2 separate regions of the Homo sapiens genome follow, and region 2 is linked to region 1. The links come from fine-mapping of genetic effects on gene expression. A gene starts in region 1. The other region holds a variant in brackets. All regions are shown on one strand. Distances are between the middles of the regions.

Region 1 (8,338 bases):
GGGTGACAGAGACTGTCTCAAAAAACAAACAAACAAAAAGCAAAATAGAAATCTTGTAGCTGAAAAAATAAAAGAGAATTATAGTAGTATAAATATGGAGTATCTTCTTAAAGTAACAGTTTTTTTCTAGTTGAAATTTGAGAATATATATATGTTATATATAATTATTATATGTAATATATAAATGATATATATGTAACATTAAAAAGTATATTTTTTTTCTGGTAAGCATAAAGAATGGATGCTGTAAATATCAGCTTTCCCAAAAGCAAAAGACAGGAGTGTTCTCTTTTGTTAAAAGCCGTGGGCCTAATATTAAGTCTTAGTTTTGTAATGTAATTTAGTTTAGGTACTAGATAACACAGATAAGTCCTAGAAATTGTTCAGCATGTCCCTTGGACAGTATCTTCTTAAATATTGCTTCAGTTGACCCTAAAATAGAAAAGAAATCAGAATCAATATCCAAATATTTGGTGTGATTAAAGGGAAATTGATACTTGCCTATAGATGGCAATTTTTTGTTTTTGTGTGGAAATTTAAAAATCTGATTTGTATTTTGAAGCTAGTTGAAAAGTATCTGGTAACCTGCTTAGGGTTTCTTACAAAACAGTTTTTGGTATGATGGAATGCTCAAACAAGTCTGAAATTAAGCCCAGGAGTTCTGTAACTAAAACATCCTTCTAGGAATTTATCCCAAGACACACCTGTATGAAACAACAACTAAGAAGAGCTGACATTTGCTGAGCTTTTACTACGTTTCATACTCTGTTATAAGTAGTCTGCATGGATTATCTCCTTTCATTCATACAACAACTTTATGAGTTCTACTGCTATCCTCATTTCATAGATGAGAAAACGATGGTTAGAATGTGCCCAGGTTAACGTTGCCCTATTTGGCTAATAAAAATACAGGATGCCTGGTTAAACTTGAATTTCAAATAGACAATAACATTTTACTGTACATATGGCTACATTCTGAATGTGTCTTCCATAATTCATGTTGAAACAACTGACAAAGCAACAGCACTACAGTTTGAATACCTTTTATCCCCACCAAAATTCATGTTGAGGCTTGGACCCCAGGGTAACAGTGTTGAGACAGAGTAGGACCTTTAAGAGGCATTTGAGCCATGAGGGACCAGCCCCCCATGAAAAGATTAACGCAGTCACTGAGAGTTCCCAGTCTCTTGAGACTGGATTAGGTACCTTGAGAGCGGGTTGTTAATAAGTAACATTGCCCCTTTAGCCAGTGCGCGCTTCCTCTTCCGATTCTCTGCCACGTTATGATGTAGCACAAAGCCCTCACCAGCAGCCTACCAGATACGGCTGCTGGATCTTGTACTTCCCAGCCTCCAGGAGAGTGGGAAAACAAATTTGTTTTTAAACTACCTAGTCTCAGGTATTTTATTATGGCAGCACAGATGAAGACAAGCCTCTCACATATTGCACAGGATATACTTAAACCACAAAATTATTCTTAATCTGGAATTCAAATTTCAGGCCATCCTGTATTTCATCTGGCAACTGTATCCAAGGACAAACAATAACACGGCCCTTACATGATCCTAATCAGCGTGGCCTCAAAGATTGTGTTTAACCAGAATGATACGCTGAAAAGAGCATTTTAGTGTCATTCTGTATGATAGTGAAAAATTGGAGCTAACCCAAATCCTCAATTACGAGAATAATGGTTAAGTAATTATTGCACATTAATCAGGTAGAATAGTATTTAAAGTAATAAACAGATGCATCTCATACTCATCAGGTTGGCAAATATTTAAATATCTGATACTATCAAGGGTCAGGAGAAGATGAAACAATGGAAATTTACATGCCCTGATTAATCCTAGAGCATGATTTCAAATGTTAATTTGTGTATAAATCACCTGGAAATCTTGGTAAAAATGCAGATTTTAATTAAGTAGGTGGAGCACAAGACTCCCCATTTCTAACACACTCCAGGTGACGTTGGTGTCGCTTGTTGCTGGACCACCATTTGAGTAGTGAGGCCCTAAAGGTCTGGTCTTCAAACTCTTTTGCTTGAGTATATACTAAAATAATAAGGTTTAAATACAAGAACTTAGTATCCCCTTATACATATTTAAGGTGATATTTAACATTTTTCATTACTAGTTTAGGTAGTTGGAAGGATTACTTTCTGGAAACATATTTATGTATTTAAATAAACTTGTAATACACTTTTAAATATACCTAGTAGACTTTGCCCTAGTTTGCCTGCCACTGCTGTGAATAGTTTCTGAGGGGGATCCCAGCAGGATTGATCCCCAATGACGCTTATTTGATATTATACTATGTATATTTTACATGAGCTGCAACCATTGAAGGAAACTGGGCAAAGATACCTGTGTGCTGTCTGCACTGCCCTTGCAAGAGAAACCAGTACCTGAAATATCTGTCAATCTCCAATCAAGACACAAGCATGGTAGAAGGAGTCAAAAGCATTCAACTTGGCACCCAGCAGCAGTTCTCTTTGGCTGAGGGAAGTGGCCACAAGACTCAGCTGGGGGCCATCAGCGGCCTACACACCCAACAACTGGAGAAATGAGTCCTCAGTCCTTAAGGGGAAACCTGGGTGGTACAACATGGCATCCCCTACACCCTGACAACCCCATGGGGTATCTGTGGAAGAGGGGCTGGGGAATGTGGTTAGCTCAGTTCAGCTCAAGAAGGCCACTACTTTGGTTCAGGTGGTGCTCTTTAATTTATAGTAGCTGTAGAAGTTCCTCCATTGCTACGCGTGTACCCCATCAGACTTTAATTGTGAAGCAATGAGTTCTTTAAAAAAGTTCAAAAATATTCTTAACCAAGTGGGATTTATTTCAGAAATGCAAAGAAGATTAGTATTAAGATATTCTTCAATATAACTTGGCATTATTGGCCAAAGATGAATGCCCACACCATTTTTCTTAAAAATTGCCAATTCCCCTTTTATGGTATTTGTATACATTGCACTATTATCACCAAGGTATGAGTGTTTTTTTCACCACTTCTCTCTTTACACCTTAATCTACATTTTCTTCTATCACAAGTGGCGTTTAACTTCTTTTAATATGTTTAAGGGCATTTGTCTTTTTTTTTTTTTTTCACTTATGGGGTCTCGCTGTATTGCCCAGGCTGGAGGGCAGTGGCTATTCACAGGCGCGATCCCGCTACCGATCAGCACAGGAGTTTTGCCCTGCCCGGTTTCCGAGCTGGGCCAGTTCCCCACTCCTTGGGGAACCTGGTGGTCCCTGCTCCCGGGAGGTCACCACACCGATGCGGAACACAGATGCGTGTCGCCGCGCAATGGGCACAGCGCATACAGCGCAGAGCTCCCGGGCTCAAGCGCTGCTCCCGCCTCAGCCTCCGGAGTAGCCGGGGCCACAGGCAGGGCATTTGTCATTAATGGGGTCTTTTGAGACCGCGGGTGACAGACAACAGGAGCCAGGCCACGCGCGGCGCCTCTGCGCGAACGCTAGGGAGGACTCAGCGCGCGGCGGCCGGTGACGTCAGGGCAGCGAGAGGTTTCGTCACCGCGGCGCGGGGGCGGGGCCGCCTGTCACGCGGCGCCGGCGGACGCGCGGCGCTGGGCGGAGGCAGCGGCTCGGGGACTGGGCGAGGGCCCTGGGCCTGAGGAGGCGCGGCCGCCACTGCGCCCAGCGCCTGCGCGACGCCTGGCTGCTGGGCCCCGGGGCAGTTCAGCCCGCGCCGCTCCTGCGGGTCGGACTGGGGCTGTGGCGGGAGAGAAGATGCCGCAGCCCGAGTCCCAGAAGGCGGCGATCCTGGGCTGCGGGCAAGGCGGTGAGTACCCTCTAGGCGGCGGCCTCCCGGCGTCCCTCAGCACCTCGAGAGCTGCGGCGGCGGCGGCGCGCGGGGCCTGGGCAGGCTGGGGGCGGCGGCGGGGCAGCGCCTGGCTCCCCGCGGGTCCTGGGCTCCCGCACGCCCCCTGGGCGAGGCTCGTGTCTCCGGGAGACGCCGCTGCCCCCGCGCCTCCCCCAGCGTCTCCTGAGGCTTGTTCGCGGGCGTGGGGGCGAGGACCAGGGCGCTGGCCTCGTTTTCGCGTATTTAGGACGGAGGCACACCTGATCCTGCAGCCTCCCCCAGCATTTCCTAAAATGAAGTCCAGATCAGTATTGTCCACTTTTTAAAATTAAAAGTGCCCAGAAATAGAATAGTTCACACATACACAAAACTAGGGAGAATAGTGTGGAAGGAAATTTAATCTCGGGACCCCAAATCACTAAGCCAAAGTCAAGCTGGGAGCTGCGTCAGGCAAACCTGCCCCTAAGTTTTGTTCCTAAGACAGCTGCAAAGATAAAAAGCCACACAGCTCCCTCACCCTTTGGCCAGGAGGAAATTCGCTGTGGACCTCCACATCTTTACCCTGAAACAGTTGTGTGGAATTGCACCCTGGCAGTGTAAATTGACAGCTTGTCTTCGCAGGTGAGGAACAGGGACAGAACTCAAGTCATCCTTCTGCTCACCTGAGACAGATGCATGTCTGACGGCTTCCTCTGCCCTGTATTTATGTAAAAATGCAGATTCACTGAGCCAGACTAAGGCACAAGTGGCTATTCCTCTGCCTGCCCCATGGCGTAAATTGTGTGTTCAGTAAAAGGCAGAGCAGAGGCTCAAAAGAATGTAGCCGTTTGTCTCTCATCTTACCCATGACCTGGAAGCCGCCACTTTGAGTTGTCCCACCTTTCCTGCCCGAACTAGTCTATACCTGTATTTGATTGAAGACTCATGTTCCCCTACAATGTATAAAACTAGGCTGTGCCCCCACCACCTTGGGTACATGCTCTCAGGATCTCTTGAGGGCAGTGTCATGGGCCATAGACACTCATTTCGCTCAGAATAAATCTCTTTAAAAATTTTTTTATTAGCCGGGTGCGGTGGCTCACGCCTGTAATCCCAGCACTTTGGAAGGCCAAGGCGAGCGGATCACGAGGTCAGGAGATCAAGACCATCCTGGCTAACACGGTGAAATCCCGTCTCTACTAAAAATACAAAAAATAAGCCGGGCGTGGTGGCAGGCGCCTGTAATCCCAGCTACTTGGGAGGCTGAGGCAGGAGAATGGCGTGAATCGAGGAGGCAGAGCTTGCAGTGAGCCGAGATCACGCCACTGCACTCCATCCTGGGTGACAGAGCGAGACTCCATCTCAAAAAAATTTATTTTTAATTTTTGTGGGTACATAGTAGGCATATGTATTTATAGGTACATGAGATATTTGATATGGCATAGAATGCATAATCACATCAGGATAAGCAGGGTATCCATCTTCTCAAGCATTTATCCTTTGTTAGTGCTACAAACAACCTGCAAGGCTCTTGTATTGGTTTGAACCCCGATGACGCACCAACAACCCCCACGACATGAGGCGGTGTGGAGCAACATGCTGTTTTAATAAGCGCCTGGGTGCAGACGGGTTTATGCCTAAATGGCATCAGCCCCAAGTGAGGAATGGGTTTTATAATAGCATCAGCCCCAAGTGAGGAAGGGGTTTTATAGTCCTCTGTAAGCAGGAAGTGTCCCAGTCTGACGTGGCTGCTGCGTAAATGTGTCCGGAATTGGTTCCTTCCAGTGGATTCTTGGTCTCGCTGACTTCAAGAATGAAGCCACGGACTGTCGCGGTGAGTGTTACAGTTCTTAAAGATGGTATGTCGAGAGTTTGTTCCTTCTGATGTTCAGATGTGTCCAGAGTTTCTTCCTTCTGGTGGGTTCGTGGTCTTGCTGACTTCAGGGATGAAGCCGCAGACCTTTGCAGTGAGTGTTACAGCTCTTAAAGGTGGCACGTCTGGAGTTGTTTTTTCCTCCCAGTGGGTTCATGAGCTCACTGACTTCAGGAGTCAACCTGCAGACCTTCGCAGTGAGTGTTACAGGTCTTAAAGGTGGCATGTCGAGAGTTGTTTGTTCCTCGCAGTAGGTTTGTGGTCTCACTGACTTCAGGAGTGAAGCCACAGACCTTCACAGTCAGTGTTACAGCTCATAAAGTTAGTGCAGACCCAAAGAGTGAGCAGCAGCAAGATTTATTGCAAAGAATGAAAGAGCAAAGCTTCCACAGCATGGAAGGGGACCCGAGCAGGTTGCCGCTGCTGGCTCCAGTGGCCTGCTTTTATTCCCTTATTTGGCCCCACCCACATCCTGCTGATTGGTCCATTTTACAGAGAGCTGATTAGTCCATTTTAGAGTGCTGATTGCTCTGTTTTACAGAGTGCTGATTGGTCTGTTTTACAGAGTGCTAATTGGTCGGTTTTTACAGAGTGCTGATTGGTGCGTTTACAAACCTTTAGCTAGACACAGAGCGCTGATTGGTGCATTTACAATCCTTTAGCTAGACAGAAAAGTTCTCCAAGTCTGCTACCCAGTTAGCTAGTCACAGAGCACTGATTGGTGCATTTACAATCCTTTAGCTAGACTGAAAAGTTCTCCAAGTCCCCTACCCGATTAGCTAGACACAGAGCACTGATTGGTGTGTTTACAAACCTTTAGCTAGACACAGAGCCCTGATTGGTGCATTTACAATCCTTTAGACAGAGTAGTTCTCCAAGTCCCCACCCGACCCAGAAGCACAGCCAGCTTCACCTCTCAATCCCCCCCCTCTAAACAGGACACCCCAACTGCTGTTGGGAATTTGGCCAATGACTGCTGTAGCTACTTCCTGCTGGATAGGGGTGAAGAAGGGGCCCTGCAATTGTAGTGTCCTCCAGAGGGGAACTCTTTAGGCCAGTGAAAGGGCCAGCAGGTTGGTCCAGGGGTCCTGGTAGAAGTTTAGTTGAGCTCATTTGGAGTTCCATTTGTAAGACCATCTGTAGCTTGATGGTCTCAATTCTAGAGGAAACAAATTTGAAAAGGAGGTTAAAAATACAGGGCCCGAAGGCAAGTAATAGCAAGATGGCTGCCACAGGACCTAGAAAGGGGAGAAGCCATGTTGTCCAACTCCAGAGGTTGGTGTAAGAGTTTGAAAGGCGTCTGATTTCAGAAGCCTTTTCCTATAAATGTTGGGTGGCATCTCATACTATCCCTGACTGGTTAGTGTAAAAACAACACTCTTCCCCTAAGAAGGTGCAGAGTCCTCCTTTCTCAGCAGTGAGGAGGTCTAGGCCTCGGTGGTTTTGGAGAGTCATTGCTGCCAAAGAGTCTATTTGGAATTGTAGTTACTATCCTTACTGGATAGATTTTGTTATTTCTTGCAAACTCTCTTGAGAAATCCTTTGAGAGTGTGGTAGTAGGATAATGAAGTAGGTAAACTGGCTATTCCAGTTCCTGTAGCAGTGGCCATTTCTAACCCTATAGGTAGGGGTATTAGTTGTATGGCTCTGCACTGACGGACTTGAGCTTTGAGGGGTACTGATAGGGTCTGATTTCCACAAGATTAGAAGTTAGAATAATATATGTTTACACTGTTAACTTTTAGCAAACTTTACTTTTGTTGAAAACCTTGTAAGTTTGGGATTTCAATTATTCTTTGCTATTAATAAGACCTCGTTCAGTCCATATTAACTTAGAATTGATATAGATGGCTCCTTCCTGATTCTGTAAGTACTTTAAGGTTTGGCTGAGTGCAAACAGCTCGCACATTTGAGCAAACCAATTATTAGGCAGTTTTCCTAACTCTGCTTCTACAGTTCCCTTATCATTTACTGAATACCCCTTGTGTCTTTTTTCCTTAATCACCCAGGAGGAACCATCTATGGTCCTGTCCTGAAGGGAGTTCCTCCTAGATCTGGTCGGACCTTTGTATGGTAGTTAGTTAAGATTTAGATCCCCTGTTAGGAAACCTGCTGGGTTAAGGATTTTTGATAGGAAGGCTATGGGTTGTCAGTGGCCTCAGTGCTTTTGGGCTACGCCCTTGTTTACACTGACAACAAGGTGGTATTGGAGTGTTACAGAGTTACAGAGAAGGCCTTCAATTATCAGTTATAGGTTTTAACTTTACTGTGGCTTTTAAAGGAATAGGGTGTAGGGTCCAGCCCCACAGGGTCGGTGGGTTTTTTCCCCGTGTGCGGAGACGAGAGAGTGTAGAAATAAAGACACAAGACAGAGATAAAAGAAAAGACAAGAGGTAGAGGAGTAGAGTCTTCTGTAAACTCCCACGGGGAAAGGGAGACTCCCTTTCCTGGTCTGCTAAGTAGCGGGTGTTTTTCCTTGACACTGATGCTACCGCTAGATCACGGGACGCTGGTGTTACCACTAGACCAAGGAGCCCTCTGGTGGCCCTGTCCGAGCATAACAGAAGCCTCAACTCTTGTCTTCTGGTCACTTCTCACTATGTCCCCTCAGCTCCTATCCCTGTATGGCCTGGTTTTTCCTAGGTTATGATTGTAGAGTGAAGA
Region 2 (8,338 bases), 89 kb before region 1:
GGGCATTAGCCTGGATAAAAGCCAGCTCTGAGGTCATATTTATTATATGATTGTGTAATAAAAGCTCTTTACTGGTGAATTGGCCGCTGGCAGCATTTTCCTGAGAATTCGAGGGAATCAAGTGTACAGAATAACAAGAAAAACAGCGCCTTAGGAAGCGTCCCAAAGGAATGGAGGGAGCACCCGCCATAGGTGCCAGGGACACCCGTGGGTCGCGCCTGTTTGCCTGCACTCTCAACTCCCTTCCTCTAGCTGCTGGGTGTTACTTACTCTGCCAACAATTTGTTACATTGTGTTTTTTAAAACACTGTTCAGGCCGGGTGCGGTGGCTCACGCCTGTAATCCCAGCACTTTGGGAGGCAGAGACGGGCGGATCACAAGGTCAAGAGATCGAGACCATCCTGGCTAACATGGTGAAACCCCGTCTCTACTAAAAATATAAAAATTAGCCGGGCGTGGTGGCGGGCGCCTGTAATCCCAGCTACTCGGGAGGCTGAGGCAGGAGAATGGCGTGAACCCGGGAGGCGGAGGTTCCACTGAGCCAAGATCGCGCCACTGCACTCCAGCCTGGCGACAGAGCGAGACTCCGTCTCAAACAAAACAAAACAAGAAAACACAACACGGTTCAGATTGTCACTGCGCCCTGTGATGTGTCCTCTTTGCCGTAAGGAGTTGTTGTGTAGGTTTGGGAACAAGGGGTAGGGGCATCGCCTCTCCTGCCAGAGGGCGGTAGGACTGTCCGATGACACCTGGTTTCCATAGCACTCCCGACAAGCCCTAGGAGGCTGTTCTCCTTACACATAATTATTCTAGATCTCCCTCTTGTGGACCATCTATGAAATAAAAGACACCAGTCTTTTTTTTTTTTTTTAACAGAGGCTTGCTCTGTTGCCCAGGCTGGAGTGCAGTGGTGTGATCTCGGCTCACTGCAGCCTCCGCTTCCTGGGTTCAAGTGATTCTCCGGCCTCAGCCTCCTGAGTAGCTGGGATTACAGGCGCCCACTACCACACCCAGCTGATTTTTGTATTTTTAGTAGAGACAGGGTTTCACCATGTTGGTCAGGCTGGTCTCAAACTCCTGACTCCACCTGCCTCGGCCTCCCAAAGTGCTGGGATTACAGGTGTGAACCACGGCCCCCCCGCCCCCCCGCCAAAACCAATCATATTTAATAGATACAATGAAGAATGTTATAGGTTATAAGGAATTAATTTCTGTGAGTACTATTTCAACATGTAAGACCATTAGTTTTTTTGTTATGAAATATTACAGACTTTTTAAATGTATATAGAGAATAATATAAAAATACCCATGCACCCACAAACCAGCTTTATCAGATCTTAACATTTTGCCCCACATTTACTTCAGATCCTTTAAAAAGGTAAAATAGATACAGTTGAGGGTCCCTAAATATATCCTCTCCCTAAAGTAATCATGGTTCTGAATTTATCTGTATTACTCCCATACATATGTTTATACTTCTCTACATGTATGTGTGCCAATACAATGCACACTGCTGTTTTATATGTTTGAAATTTTATAAGAAGTTACTGTCACACTGCATGTATTATTCTGCAATCTGTTTTTCTCCCACAATATTATACTTTTGAAGTTTTTCCTTGTGTTTCTGTTTCATTCATTTTCCTCTTCTGTATGCTATTGGTTGTATAAATATCACAACATATTTACCAGTTCTCTTATTCTGGGACATTTAGGTTATTTCCATTTTTCCTCATAACAAACAATGCTGTGGTGAACACACTTGGCCTTGCCTCCTTGTCTGTATATGGGAACTTTTCTAGAATATCCTAAAAGGGGAGTGCTGGCTCATTATACTGGGCTTCTTCAGCTTTACTGCTCATAGAGGATGGTACTACGTTACCTTCCGACCGTCAGCAGAGCTCTTTCCTTTCCTGTCATCTGTCCTCCCAGTGGGCAGCCAGGTGGAAGGAGCAGTAGCCACCATTAATCGAGCCTTCACCATGTGCCAAGCACCAGGTTACACGAATTGCCTGAATTTTCTTGTTTTAAAATGACAACAATCTTATGGGGGCAGCATTAGCAAGCCTGGTTTACAGGAAATCAGAGAAGTCCCGGACGCTGCCCAAGGCCACACAGATAATGAACTGCAGAGCGGAAGTGAAACTGATGCAGCCTCACCTGTCTGATCCCGAGCTGCTATTTGACCACTGGGCTATAAAGATGGTGAAAGACTTACCTGTAGAATTCTGGGATGGCGGAGGACACATCTTCCTAGTGAAGTCTCTAAGCCAGTTTGGTGAGAGCTGAGAACGAAGATCAGAAGAAAGAGGCTGGGTGCGGTGGCTCATGCCTGTAATCCCGGCACTTTGGGAGGCTGAGGCAGGCAGATCACCTGAGGTCAGGAGTTCGAGACCAGCCTGGCCAACATGGCAAAACTCTGTCTCTACTAAAAATACAAAAATTAGCTGGGCATGGTGGCACATGCCTGTAATCCCGCGACTTGGGATGCTGAGGCATGAGAATCACTTGAACCCAGGATGCAGAGGTTGCAGTGAGCGAAGATCGCACCACAGCACTCCAGCCTGGGCAACAGAGTAAAACTCCATCTCAAAATAAATAAGTAGATAAAAATAGTTCGAAGAAAGAAGGAATAAGCCATTTAAATGTTTTAATTATGAAAGTCATTATTATACGTTCAAAAGAGTATATTTAATGTTAATGTATAAATAAGGAACAATAATAAAATGAACAGATGGCAAGAAAGGAGTGAGAGAAATGGAAATTAAAGGTATCTAGATACCTAAGAAAAATAGACTTCAGTGTGAGAAAATAGCAGTGGAGGATCTGACAGCATGCATCCGTTTTCCTTGCAATTACTCAGGCTCAGCGAGTGTTTTTCGACAGTGCAGGAGTCTAAAGCTGCTTTGCCGTGTGCTCAGAACAGCTGACCTAAATCTGGCAGGACAGAGGAGTGGGGACCATCACATCAATGAGAAAAGGTGGAGTGTGCACCTGCCTGGAGACAAAGCAGAAATGGAAATAAGGGCCAGGTGGAAGACAAGAAGAGGGAAAAGGAAGTGTATTCTCCAGCTGGTCTCTCTGCTCAGCCCTGCAGGAGCTGGGAATTCCTCCTGAGCTCCCTGGGGAGCTGTCTGTTTTGCCCTGGTTTGACCAGAGCCTGACCTGAGCACTTTGCTTTTATTTCTCCCTGTTGTGTGTGTGTGTGTGTGTGTGTGTGTGTGTGTGTGTGTGTGTGTGTTTGTTTGTTTTTGAGATGGAGTCTCGCTCTGTCGCCCAGGCTGGAGTTCAGTGACATGATCTCGGCTCACTGCAACTTCTGCTTCCCGGGTTCAAGCAATTCTCGTGCCTCAGCCTCCCAAGTAGCTGGATTACAGGCATGTGCCACCACGTCCAGCTAATTTTTGTATTTTTAGTAGAGATGGGGTTTTGCCATGTTGACCAGGCTGGTCTCGAACTCCTGACCTCAAGTGATCCACCCGCCTCAGCCTCCCAAAATGCTGGGATTACAGGCATGAGCTACCGGCCCCAGCCTCTCTCCTTTTATTTTTAAGGA[A/G]CTAAGTAATGCAAAACTCAACGGGCCTAGTATGCCATCTGGTAGTGAACGTCTAGTTGAATTAAAGATGAAAAGTGCTAGGGTGTTTGTATTGTTTCGACTAAGACACAGAGGTATAAGTTGTATTTTAGAGTTGTTCATGTTTACTTTACTTGAAAACGAAATGACTTCCAAAATAGAGGAGTCAAAACAAACCAGAAGTGAAAGTTAGCAAGTATTACAGGAAGTGGAAAGGAAACGAATGTGTTGCTATGGAAGTGAAACTGCTTTTTAAACAGCGCATCAAGAGCAGAGTGGGTAAAGCAGGTAGTTTTCTTGGCATGAGTAAAGGATATAGGTCATCTTATGTGCTTTTATACAATAAAAGTATAACTGATACCTTGATCTTAACTTTGTTAAACTGTGAAAAGAGAAAGAACTTGGTGATGTTAAGATACCTCGATACCTTTAGCTTCATCAAAAATGGGTCACGTGCCTTAACCTTGACTTACTCATTTTTCCTACCTTCACGCCTATCATTTCCCCACTTAGAATGCCTTTATGCTACTCAGATTTCCCATCAGAATTTCAACCATCCTATTAAGGACTTTGAAAACCTGACTTAATTGTTTTTTGTTTTTTGGGGTTTTTTTTGAGACAGTCTCACTCTGTCACCCAGGCTGGAGGGCAGTGGTGTGATCTCAGCTCACTGCAACTTCTGCTTCCCAGGTTCAAGTGATTCTCCTGCCTCAGCCTCCTAAGTAACTGGAACTACAGACATGTGCCACCAAGCTCAGCTTATTTTTGTATTTTTAGTAGAGACGGGGTTTCGCCATGTTGGCTAGGCTGGTCTCGAACTCCTGACCTCAAGTGGTCCGCCCGCCTCAGCCTCGCAAAGTGCTGGGATTATAGGCATGAGCCACTGCGCCTGGCCCTGATTTAAATTTTTTATGGAAGTATAAAAATCCATGAAATGCTAAGTCAAACTTGCTCAACTAGGAATTAAGATACAACACAAAACCAAGGACAGACACACAGACCAGGGGAACAGGAGAGGGAGCCCAGAGAGAGACTATATTACATGGGAATCATTACATGATAAAGACAGCCCAGGAATCAGTGGGGAAAGGACGAGTTACTTGTGGATATTTAGAAGTCATTTCAGTGTCTGCAGGGGTAAAAAACCAACATCACATACATAGGACTATTCAAAATGAAGCCAATACCGAATATGAACAGTAAAATGATAAGTTAACAGAATATGGTGATGACACACTTCCTTGCGATCCAAGGGTGGGGAAGGACCTCTTAAAATTTCAAAACACAAGCTGTAAGCAAAAAAAAAAAGGAAGATGATTTTTAGTACATCAGAATGAAAAATTTCTGGTCAACTAGTGGCCCACTGACAAAGTTAATTCAGGCTTTTATTCAACATGCTTGGCTTTATGGCACTTCCCAGATGTTGCATTTCTTACAAATAGAAGGTTTGTGGCAGCCCTGCTTTGAGCAAGTCTGTTGGTGTCATTTTTCCAACAGCACATGCTCAGTTTATGTCTCTGTGTCATATTTTGGTAATTCTTGCAGTATCTAAAACTTTTTCATTATTATATCATTGTGATGATCTGTGATCAGTGGTCTTTGATGTTACTACTGTAGTTGTTTTGGGGGTCCCATATAAGACAGTGAACTTAATTGATAAATGTTGTATGTGTTCTAATTGGTCCACCAGCTGGCCATTCCTCTGTCTGTCTCCCTCATCTTGTGCATCCCTGTTCCCTGGGGATTGAAATTAGGACAATTAATAACCCTGCAATGGCCTCTAAGTGTTCAAGTGAAAAGGAGAGTCACAGGCCTCTGACTTTAAATCAAAAGGTAGAAGTAATTAAGCTAAGTGAGGAAGGCATGTCGAAAGCTGAGATAGGCCCCAAGCTAGGCATCTTGTGCCAAACAGTTAACCAAATTGTGAGTGCAAAGAAAATGTTCTTGGCCAGGCACGGTGGCTCACGCCTGTAATCCCAGCATTTTGGGAGGCTGAGGCGGGCGGCTTACTTGAGGTCAGGAGTTCAAGACCAGCCTGGCCAACATGATGAAACCCCATCTCTACTAAAAATACAAAAATTAGCCGGGCGTGGTGGTGTGCATGGTGTGCACCTGTAATCCCAGCTACTTGGGAGGCTGAGGCAGAAGAATCACTTGAACCTGGCAGGTGGAGGCCGCAGTGAACTAAGATCATGCCACTGCACTACAGCCTGGGTAACAGAGCAAGACTCCATCTCAAAAAAAAAGTACTTAAAGGAAATTAAAACTGCTACTCCAGGGAACACACAAATGATAAGAAAGTGAGACTGCCTTATTGCTGATACAGAGAAAGTTTGAGTGGTCTGGATAGAAGATCAAAGCAGCCACAGCATTCTCTTAGGCCAAAGCCGAATCCAGAGAAAGGTCCTAACTCTCTTCCACTCTGAAGGCTGAGAGAGGTGAGGAAGCTGCAGAAGGAAGTTTGAAGCTTTTGAACCTCATTGGTTCATGAGATTTAAAGAGCGAAGCCAGCTCCATAAAAAAGTGTAAGATGAAGCAACAAGTGTTGATGGAGAAGCTGCAACAAGTTTTCCAGAAGATCTAGTTAATTAAGATCATTGATGAAGACAGGAGCACTAAACAACAAATTTTCAATGTAGACTAAACAGTCTTCTATTGGAAGAAGATGCCATCTAAGACTTTTCATAGCTAGAGAGAAGACATCAATGTCTGGCTTCAAAGCTTCAAAGGATAGGCTGACTCTCTTGCTAGGGGCTGATGCAGCTGGTGTCTTTAAGCTGAAGCCAGTGCTCACTTGCCATTCTGAAAATCTTAGCGTCCTTAAGAATTATGCTGAATCTATTCTGCCTGTGCTCTAGAAATGGAACAACAAAGCCTGAATGACTACACAACTGCTTACAGCATGGTTTACTGAATATTTTAAGCCCGCCGTTGAGACCTACTGCTCAGAAGAAAAGATTCCTTTCAAAATATTACTGCTCATTGACAATGCACTTGGTCACCTATAAGCTCTGAGGGAGATGTGCTAGGAGATAAATGTCGTGTCCCTGCCTGCTAACACGATCACCATTCTCTGCCCATGGATCAAGGACTAATTTCTACTTTCAAGTCTTATTATTTAAGAAATAGATTTAATAAGGCTATAACTGCCATAGATAGTGATTCCTCTGATGGATCTGGGCAAGGAAAATTGAAAACGTCTGGAAAGGATTCACCATTCTAAATGCCATTAGAAACATTCGTGATTCATGGGAGGAGATCAAAATAATAACATTAAGAGGAGTTTGGAAGAAGTTGATTCCAGTCTTCATGGATGACCTTGAGGGGTTGAAGACTTTAGTGGAGGAAGTCACTGCAGATGTGGTGGAAATGCAAGAGAAATAGAAGATGGGACTGAACTGCAATTTCATGATCAAACTTGAAAGGATGAGGAGTTGCTTCTTTTGGATGAGCAAAGAACGTGGTTTCTTGACATGGAAACTACTCTTGATGAAGAAGCTATGAACACTGTTAAAACGACAACAAAGCATTTAGAATATTACATAAGCTTAGCTGACAAAGCAGTGGCAAGGTCTGAAAGGACTGACTCCAATTTTCAAAGAAGTTCTACTCTGGGTAAAATTCTATCAAACAGCATCACATGCTACAGAAAAATCTTTTTGTGAAAGGAAGAGTCAGGGGAAGGGCAGGGGTAGAAAAAAATTAAAAAAGAAGAGTCGATGGATACAGCAAACTTCATTACTGTCTTATTTTAAGAAATTCCACAGCCACCCCAACCTTCAGGAACCACCACCCTGATCAGTCAGCAGCCACCAACATCGAGGCAAAACCCTCCACCAAAGGAAGATTACAACTCCATGAAGGCTCAGATAATTGTTACCATTGTTTAGCAATAAAGTATTTTTAATTAATACAGTACATTTTATACATAATGCTATTGCACACTAAATGGACTACAGTATAGAAACATAACTTTTATATGCACTGGGAAACCACAAAAATGTGTGACTCACTTTATTGCAATATTTGCCTTATTGCAGTAATCTGGACTGAACCCACAACATCTCTGAGGTATCCCTGTAGACAGAGGACAGAATGGGAGAACACGCTTGCAATATCCAAAGCTGACAAGGGACTAGTGCCTAGAAAATTCAAGGAACTCATGCAAATCAAGAGGAAAAAGACAGAAAGTGGAAAAAGGGATAAGATGTAGATAGGCAATTCATAGAAGAAGACACCCCAAAGAGCACCAAACAAGAAGAGAAGCTTAGCTTCATCCGAAATCAGAGAAGCGCAGATGAAAACCATGTTCCTTTGCATCCGTTCATGGCTGGGTCCCTGCCAGAGCAGCCTGGACCAAGTACTGGAGCTGGACTCAGGACAGCCCATGGATGAGGCTGCCAGCAACAGAGGAGTTGTCTTGTCTAGCTCAGAAAGATTTTTTTATTGGGAATCTGTTTGGCAAATTGAAAATTAGATTAGTGAGTTAGAAGGGAAGAAAGATAAGAGGGAGAGCCAGAGCAAGAGGGCCCGGGAGGGTGCAGGGCGGAGTGGGGGGCGCTGGGCGTGGGCACACGCTGGAGCATCCAGTGGGGGCTGTGGGAGGTGAAAGCCAGGGCCCCAGAGAGGAGACTCAAGAGATGCTGGGAGAGCGGCCACCAGTCCTGGGCCACTTCAGTGTTTCTCAGCTCTGCTCTTGGATTTTTAATATAATTTTGTTACTGGGGGAGGGTGTCCAGGTTCTTGGCATTTTGAACAAAGAATTGG

What was found.
Region 2: its variant is fine-mapped to the expression of GALNT11 in neutrophils (BLUEPRINT, PIP 0.95).

The regions. Positions count from the first base shown.
Region 1 is chr7:152,022,084-152,030,421 of GRCh38, forward strand. GALNT11 (polypeptide N-acetylgalactosaminyltransferase 11) reads left to right here and starts at 3,591. Exons shown (of 12, transcript NM_022087.4): 1 at 3,591-3,801. RefSeq lists silencers at 2,281-2,575, 3,426-4,125.
Region 2 is chr7:151,932,627-151,940,964 of GRCh38, forward strand. No RefSeq gene overlaps it. Among named protein-coding and RNA genes, the nearest start is that of GALNTL5, 20 kb to the right of the region's middle. RefSeq lists enhancers at 678-777, 798-847. The variant A/G (reference allele first, on the strand shown) is at 3,554.